Homo sapiens: one gene and its partner. The protein of the gene in region 1 interacts with the protein of each later gene in a pairwise test. Each region holds a gene or a part of one and is shown on either strand. Other genes may lie near its edges.

Region 1 (3,746 bases):
CAGAATCCACCAATGGCTGCCCACCTGACACCCATGGGCCTCCCGGCACGGAGCCTGGCTGTCCTCTGATATTTACCCATGCTCTTCCTGTCCCATGGCACTGTTCCTTTGGCCACGACACCCCCACCACTGGGCTCTAGTGCCACTGCTCCCTGAAACGTTCTGCTGGGAGTTCATGCCTTTAACGACTGCCTGCCCCACCCCCCAAAGACTTGATGGCTTTGCCTTTTTTTTTTTTTTTTTTTTTTTGAGATGGAGTCTCACTCTGTTGCCCAGACTGGAGTGCAGTGGCACGATCTTGGCTTACTGCAACCTCCGCCTCCCGGGTTCAAGTGATTCTGTCTCAGCCTCCCAAGTAGCTGGGATTACACGCACGCGCCACCACGCCCTGCTGATTTTTGTATTTTTAGTAGAGACGGGGTTTCACCATGTTGTGTAGACTGGTCTCGAACTCCTGACCTCAAGTGATCCACCCGCCTCGGCCTCCCAAAGTGCTGGGATTACAGGCGTGAGCCACCACACCCGGCATCTTTTTTTTTTCGTTTTTTAATCGGTGATGGGGTCTGGCCCCGTCGCCCAGGCTGGAGTGCAGCGGCACAATCATGGCTCACTGCAGCCTCATCCCTCGGGCTCAGGCGATTCTCTTGCCTCAGCCTCCTGAAGAGCTGGGATTACAGACGCCGCCACCACGTCCGGCTAATTTTCAGATTTTTTGTAGAGACGGGGTCTTGCCATGTTGCCCAGGCTGGTTTCAAACTCCTGGGCTCAAGCGATCCTCCCGCCTCTGCCTCCCAAACTGCTGGGATGACAGGTGCTGCTTCATTGAGTACACTGGCTTCTGTACTCAGCTCCCGGCCTGGTGAGGCAGGCAGGGCCTGGCTGAGCCTACACTGGGGTCAGCAGGGCGAGGGGCCTGGGCTGCTGCTCAGGCCTAGGAAAGGCCGGGGTCAGTGTGAACCGGACCGAGGTATGAGGCGTTCGCGCCGCGGGCGCTCTGACCCCTCTGCTCACAGGGGAGGATCGGAGGGAGGCTTGAAGCACTTGCCAAGGCCTCACACCTGGAGGGGACAGAGTCTTCCCCAGCCGCTGGCGTCAGCTGGACCTGCCCTGAGCTGGGGACGGGAAGGGCTTGGGCGGGAACTGGAGGCCCACGCAGGTCCCCCGCGGTGTCTGCGGCCTGTGCCTCTGGGGCCACCTGGCCAGGGAGGGCAGGAGGTGCCCCGCACATCCCTGAATGGCCGCAGGGCAGGCGAAGGAGACTGCCGGGTCCCAGGTTGTGGGACGGGCCCAGGCGACCGTGACCACACACGGCAGACACCCCGCCTCCATGAGGGGCAACACCCCCTGGGCCGCTCGCGAGGACGTCCGGCCGCGCCCGGCCCTCACCCGCCAGGCTGTGCAGGGCGCCGCCCGCCGCGCTCCGCAGCCCACCGCGGTAGTACTCGTCCTTCTGCGCCGCGCGGATCACCTCCGGGGGGCTGGCGGCGGCCGGGGCCATGGCCGCGGGTTCGGGTGGTCCCGAGCAGCCACGCCGGCCACGCCCACGCCCAGACGGGCGAGAACTGATGACGGCACGACGTGGCTCTGCGTGCGGCGCAGACCTCTGCGTCAAGGTGCTGGGGCGGGGCCGGACTGGGGCTGGAGGCGGGGCCAGGGCCCGGGCGGAAGCGGGGCTGGAGTCCGAACCAGCGCAGCGCGGGGCGGGGCAGCGGGAAGGTAGTCGGAGGCGCAGGGCGGAGCGGAGCGGGGCGGGGCCCGCGAGCCGAGGTGGGGGCGGGGCACGCGCGAGGGGCGCTGGCGAGGCAGCGGGATGGGCTCGCGGCCGCGTGGTTGCTGCGACCTCGGGGTCCTACGCTGCCAGGGGCCCCTGCTCTGCTCCCTGCACGTCCACGGGCCGCCCTCCCACTGGGGACAGCGCTGCGGAGTGGAGACGCTGCAGGCCCATTTACGGCTGGGGAGACGGAGGCTTTCGCTTGGGTCTTCGGGAAGCCGAGCTCCCAGCGCCGGCCGCGGCGGTCCCGCCCTCGCGCCCTTTGAGCTGCGCGGGCTCTCAGCGCGGGTTGGCCAGTTCCGGGGAGCCGGTCGGTTTGGGGGCCAGAGGGGCACGAGGCGAGACCCGGGACCTTCCAGGCCCCGAGCAGCCGCCTTCCCCAGTAATCCTGCGCGAAAAGCACACGGCCGGCTTGGTGTGGACGCCCCCCTGGTGCCCACGGGAGGCAGGGCCTGGCGGGTGGGGGGCAGCCGGGAAGCCGCCGCGTGGTTCCAGGACGGGCGGAAGGTGGCCTTCCACCCTCCACCCTCCACCCTGCCTGGCCTGAGCCCCGCAGGTGCTCTGGGGAACCACATCGCAGGCGCTCCGATCCCTCTGCTCCCAGGGGACGAGCGGAGGGAGGCCTGAAGCACTTGCCAAGGCCGCACACCTGGAGGGGACAGAACCTTCCCCAGCCGCTGGCCACAGCTGGACCTGCCCTGAGCTGGGGGTGGGAAGGGCTGGGGCGGGAACTGGAGGCCCACGCAGGTCGCCTGCGGTGTCTGCGGCCTGTGCCTCTGGGGCCGCCTGGCCAGGGAGGGCAGGAGATGCCTGGTACATACCTGAATGGCTGCAGGGCAGGTGAAGGAGAAGGCCCTGTTTTTTGGCCCCAAGGGCAGCACTTGGCCCTGGAGAGTCCTGCAGGATTGCAGGAGGAAGGCAGGGCACGACAAGGGGGCGTCTGCGCCCCGCTGACCTCAGTGGGGAGGGCCTCCAGTTCCTTGCCTCACCTCTGGTTCCATCTACAGGAGCTCAGCTGTGGGATCATCCCCAGACTGGCACAGCCCAGTCACAAAGCCAGAGCCCCACACTGCAGGAATGGCCCCTCTTACAGGGAAGGGGCATGGCCTGGGTGGCCCCGCCCCGCAGGCCCTCTGGCTACCAAACCTCCCAGCGCCCCCGCGCCCCTTTGGAGTTCTGACCCCGCGGGTGCACCCGTGTCTCCTGGACACAGAGGCTGCCCTCTGATTGGGTTGAGCACCTTGGGCTGAACCCCTCATCCGTGGACCAGGCAACCCGGCATCGCCCACGTGGAGCCGCTGAGGTGATCATGTGTTCTGGTCAATGCTTAGATAACAGTTTGAGATGCCGCTCTGGCCCCTGGGTTCATGGCTCCACGTCTGATTCTGAGGAGGAGGCTTCGGCTCCTTTGGATTCACACTGGGTTCTATGATGGGCCCCTGACGGGAGGGCCTGCTCTAGGAGGCATCCCCCACCGCTGTCCTGGCTCAGGACTGCTTTCCCCACTCTTCTCATCTGCACCCTGGGCGACAAATCCCAGCCTCACAGTGGGAGGGGCCTGGGCAGGACCTGAAACAAAGTGTCCCAGTGTCTGCTGTTCCTGGGCAGGTGGGGCTTGGGGGTCCCCCACGGTTCAAGCCTTGGCTCTAGGCCTTGGCTGGGCCTTGTAATGGCACCCGCGACCCTCAGTTGCCTCACTCATTGGGGCTTCGAAGGCCTCTGGTGCCCCGAGGGTCCTTCCTGAGGGCGACTTGAATACGGCGGTCCTATCCTGGGATGGCCGGCAGGTGGCAGCGTCAGCCCGTCTGCTCTCCACCGGGCTCCCCGGTAGAGTTATAGGGGATTAGGCGGTGAGTTTTGCCCCAAAGGGAATCGAATCTAGATCAGAACCACTGGCGAAGTGGAGCGACCATCTGCCCGAAACAGCGGAGGGAAGGAAGCGCCTGGAGGGGGTCTCAGGGAGGTGGGGCGGGAG
Region 2 (3,746 bases), about 160 Mb from region 1:
ACCAATGTGAGGCCAAGGTACCCTCCCACATTCCCCTCTGGCCCATAGGGGCCTGCCCAACCTCTGCTCAGGGCTGCATGCCCATCCCCTCCCCATCCCTTAAGGGGGTGGAATTTATACTTTGGCAGTGTCTCCTGGCGATCTCTTCTGGGGCCCCGAAGCATCAGGGGCCGTGGTGGTAGAAGGGGGTGCTGGGGAGGGTTTGGCTTTATCGAAATCATCAAGAGCACCTTCAGAGACAAGAGACATGGTGTGTGTGTTGGCGACAGATGAGAATGCAAGCAAGGCTGGGTGGTTTCTGGGCAAAGCATTAGGAATATGATTTTTCAAATTGCCAACTTTCCTCAATTTTCCTCCTTGAGTCCCCCACCTCCCCAGACCACCCTCAATGAGCCTCCTACTTCCTTCTGGATTACCTAATTTATTGTGAGCAAAGGCAAAGAAATCCCTTAAGGTGGAACAAATGTCCATCTCAGAGCTGGGAGGAGAGGATTAAAAAGTTCTGCAGAGACATCTCCATCTATAGTGTCTCCCTTGCCACACCCTAACGATTCCCTAGAAATCCCATACAAATACCCAACAGTAGTAGAGAACACAGATGTCCTCATCCCTCTGAACTCACTCTGGAGCTCTAAAAGGAATAACTTGGTGAGAAAGCACAGGACATCCCACCCAGCTTCCTGTTGGTACTGGTACCAGCACAGACTGAGGGACTACATACCAGACTCCATGGTACGGCATTAAACTATCTTCTCTTATTCTCCAGTTTAGTGCTCCCCAACAACCTTCTAGAGCTCCCTTTGGCCTGATCTCTGCAGATAACCGTACACTAATTTACACAGTCACTTGGCACTCCTCAGGGTTTCTGTTCATTTTTCTGCCTGCCCACATCTCCGTGATTGAGCAAGCGATTACAAATTCACCTCTGCCCTGAAAAGCCTGTGTCCTCACCACCATTCTGTTCGCCAGGCCTAGGGAGAGAGCACTGGCCCTACTCTGGGCAGGAAGTCAACAGGGGAGTGGAGAGTAATGCTAAGAAAACATCCCCCGTCTTTCAGGAGGGTGAACTGCTTTCCCCTGAAATCGCCACATCCTCAGTTTCTCAAAATAAGGGAAAGGAGTCCGCTTGAGCTACTGACAAGATGAAAGAACTGTTAAGGGGCCTAACGAGAGAAAGAGAAAAGGACTAGGAGGAGAAAAGTGTCTTTCGTGTTAAGGAAGACAGGACGAGGCACACAAGGACCGGCCACGAGCTTGCTAGGAGTTAATGTAAGCAATCAGTGAGTGCGTAGTTCGCTACCCAGCAAGAACCAAATGCTGCTGCTGCTGCTACTGCTGCTGAAGTCGAACTTTAAGAACTCAGTAACCTAAAGAGGAGTTTGAAGAGGTATCATGAAACGCCGTCCTGCGGAAACATCCACCATCCGGACCACTGAGGGACCCCAGGTGAGCTCCCCAGCTCCAGTCGCCGGGGTGGGGCAGGATGACCCAGAGATTTTTGGGGGGCTCGGGGGTCAGACTCTCCGCCCCCATTTAACCTTTGGAGAGCCTCTCCTGCCCGTCCCTAATATCTCAGGTTCACTTAACCCCCAGAATGGGTCCTCACACGTGCCCTCTTCGGGCCTTTCCCACTATGGGCTCTTACTTTCCAGAAGCTCCTCCAATTCCCTGTCCGCTTCGGCCCCGACACTACAGCCTTCCTCAGCGGCGGCCATCTTGCTACCTCCGACTTGCCGTAGGAGGCGGGACCTCCTCGGTGCCGACACGCCCTCCACCCCTTCGCTCCCGCCCTCTTCTGCCTCGGGTAACCAATGGTATTGTTGACCAGTGCGGAACCGCCATTTTTAAAGGGCCAGGAAGCTTTGAGTGTTTGTGTTTTGGGTATTTTTCCCTTTTCTCCTGTGAAACAGAATTAGGGATAAGATAGGGTTATTTTCTGTCTGGTTTTAGAGGCCCGGACTCCTTTCTTTCAACTTCCCAAATTACCTGGCGAAGCTCTTTCATTATTTTTTCCTGAGCTGTGAGTAGGCCAGATTGAGACAAACTGCCTACAAATAACCAGAATCTAAACATATATAATTGATATGACAATTATGGCACATAACATACTACTTTCTCTCACTTCATTTTTTTTTTTTTATTTTTTTTTGAGAAGGAATCTTGCTCTGTCGCCTACGCTGGAATGCAGTGGCGCCATCTCGGCTCACTGCAGCCTTGGCCTCCCGGGTTCAAGCGATTCTTCCTGCCTCAGCCTCCCGTGTAGCTGGGATGACAGGCGCGCGACACCACGTCCGACTAATTTTTGTAGAGACGGGGTTTTAACATGTTGGCCAGGCTGGTTGGCCAGGCTGGTCTCGAACTCCGGACCTCAGCTGATCCGCCCACCTCGGCCTCCCGAAGTGCTGGGATTACAGGCGTGAGCCACTGCGCCCGGCTTCACTTCATTGTTTCCCTCAAATATTATCTTTTCTGAAACGCTTTCCTTGGCCATTCCCGTTCCTTTTCTTCCTAACACTGAACAGTATCTGACATACTATCTACCGTACTTTTTTATTCTCCGCTCCCCACCCTGCAGAATTTAAACACCATGAACGCAAAGATTTTCGTCTGTTGTCTTCACTGCTGTAAAGCCCAACTCCCAGGCTAGGGTTTAAAACTTAGTAGGCATTCATTGGCCACTCTTTGCTCTCGCAGTCCCTAATCAGGCACATCTGTCTGCCCAATCTAGTGGCATCTCTCATTTCCTATTATCTATTAGAACTGTTTGATTAAAGGACACAGGGCCGGCCAGGAACTTAGAACTCCATGTTATTAAGAGAGCCTCTGGTACCTTGGACTGAGCAGGGCAATTCGAATGCAGTAGTAATAGACTTACTTTCCCTGAACAATCTCCTTTTCTCCACACAGAACCCAACCTCCAACTGAGTGAACACGGGGAATGCTCAGATAGAGGTAACTCTAGACGTCCCTTTCCTCCTTTGGAATTGTTCTATTCAGATGTCAGAATGTAGCAACTGTTTCACATACAAATCTGTTTTCGCACTTAGAGAGCACCTATTATTAAGGTCTTGTTCTGGGCACAGTGAGGACAGAGAGATAAATCAGGACCACCCCCTGCTGTAAGGTAGCTAAGTGGGGGTGAGCCGGAGGTATGATGAGATATACACACAGTATGATACAAGGTAAGAATTTTAAATGAAAAAAAATCCTGTGTTAAGTCACCTCATCACTTTCATTCTTAGCTTCCTAAACACACATTTGAGTACTGCATCAAGCACCAGATCAAGCACTTACTATGTCCTTCACAGATAGGGCACAGACTTGTAAAATCATATCTGCAAAACCTGTTTTCTTCCAACCACAAGTAGTGTGTTTTGGGATCAAAATATTATGAACTGTGAGTTAGAAAGCCTAAATTCCAGCCCCAATTCTGCCACTAATCACTTTTGAAGTCCTTTACAATTCTAAACTTCTGTAATCAAATCCTTTCCTGATAAACCTGTTTTCCAACACCTGCAACATAATTTATTCCAGACTTTCTCATTCAAACTGCTTACACGTGTATCTCCAATATGGCTATAGTTGTAACAAGCACGTCAAAAAAAGAAAACTTGTCTATCAACAGGCATCTCTATTGGTTTTATTTTTTGAGACAGAGTTTCACTGTTGCCCAGGCTGGAGTGCAGTGGTGCAATTTTGGCTCACTGCAGCCTCCACCTCCCGGGTTCAAGTGATTCTCCTGTCTC

The links. Proteins that work in one complex are often made in the same cells at the same time.
Region 2: the proteins of PEX10 (region 1) and PEX19 interact in a two-hybrid assay, tested with the Homo sapiens proteins (4 studies listed by BioGRID and IntAct, with this or other methods).

Annotation. Positions count from the first base shown.
Region 1 is NC_000001.11:2,411,005-2,414,750, forward strand, and holds the start of PEX10 (peroxisome biogenesis factor 10), read right to left. Parts: upstream 1,561-3,746; 5' UTR 1,499-1,560; coding exon 1,387-1,498; intron 1-1,386.
Region 2 is NC_000001.11:160,283,410-160,287,155, forward strand, and holds the start of PEX19 (peroxisomal biogenesis factor 19), read right to left. Parts: upstream 1,725-3,746; 5' UTR 1,716-1,724; coding exon 1,646-1,715; intron 1,447-1,645; exon of another isoform or gene 956-1,446; intron 231-955; coding exon 121-230; intron 1-120. UniProt on the Homo sapiens protein: Necessary for early peroxisomal biogenesis. Acts both as a cytosolic chaperone and as an import receptor for peroxisomal membrane proteins (PMPs).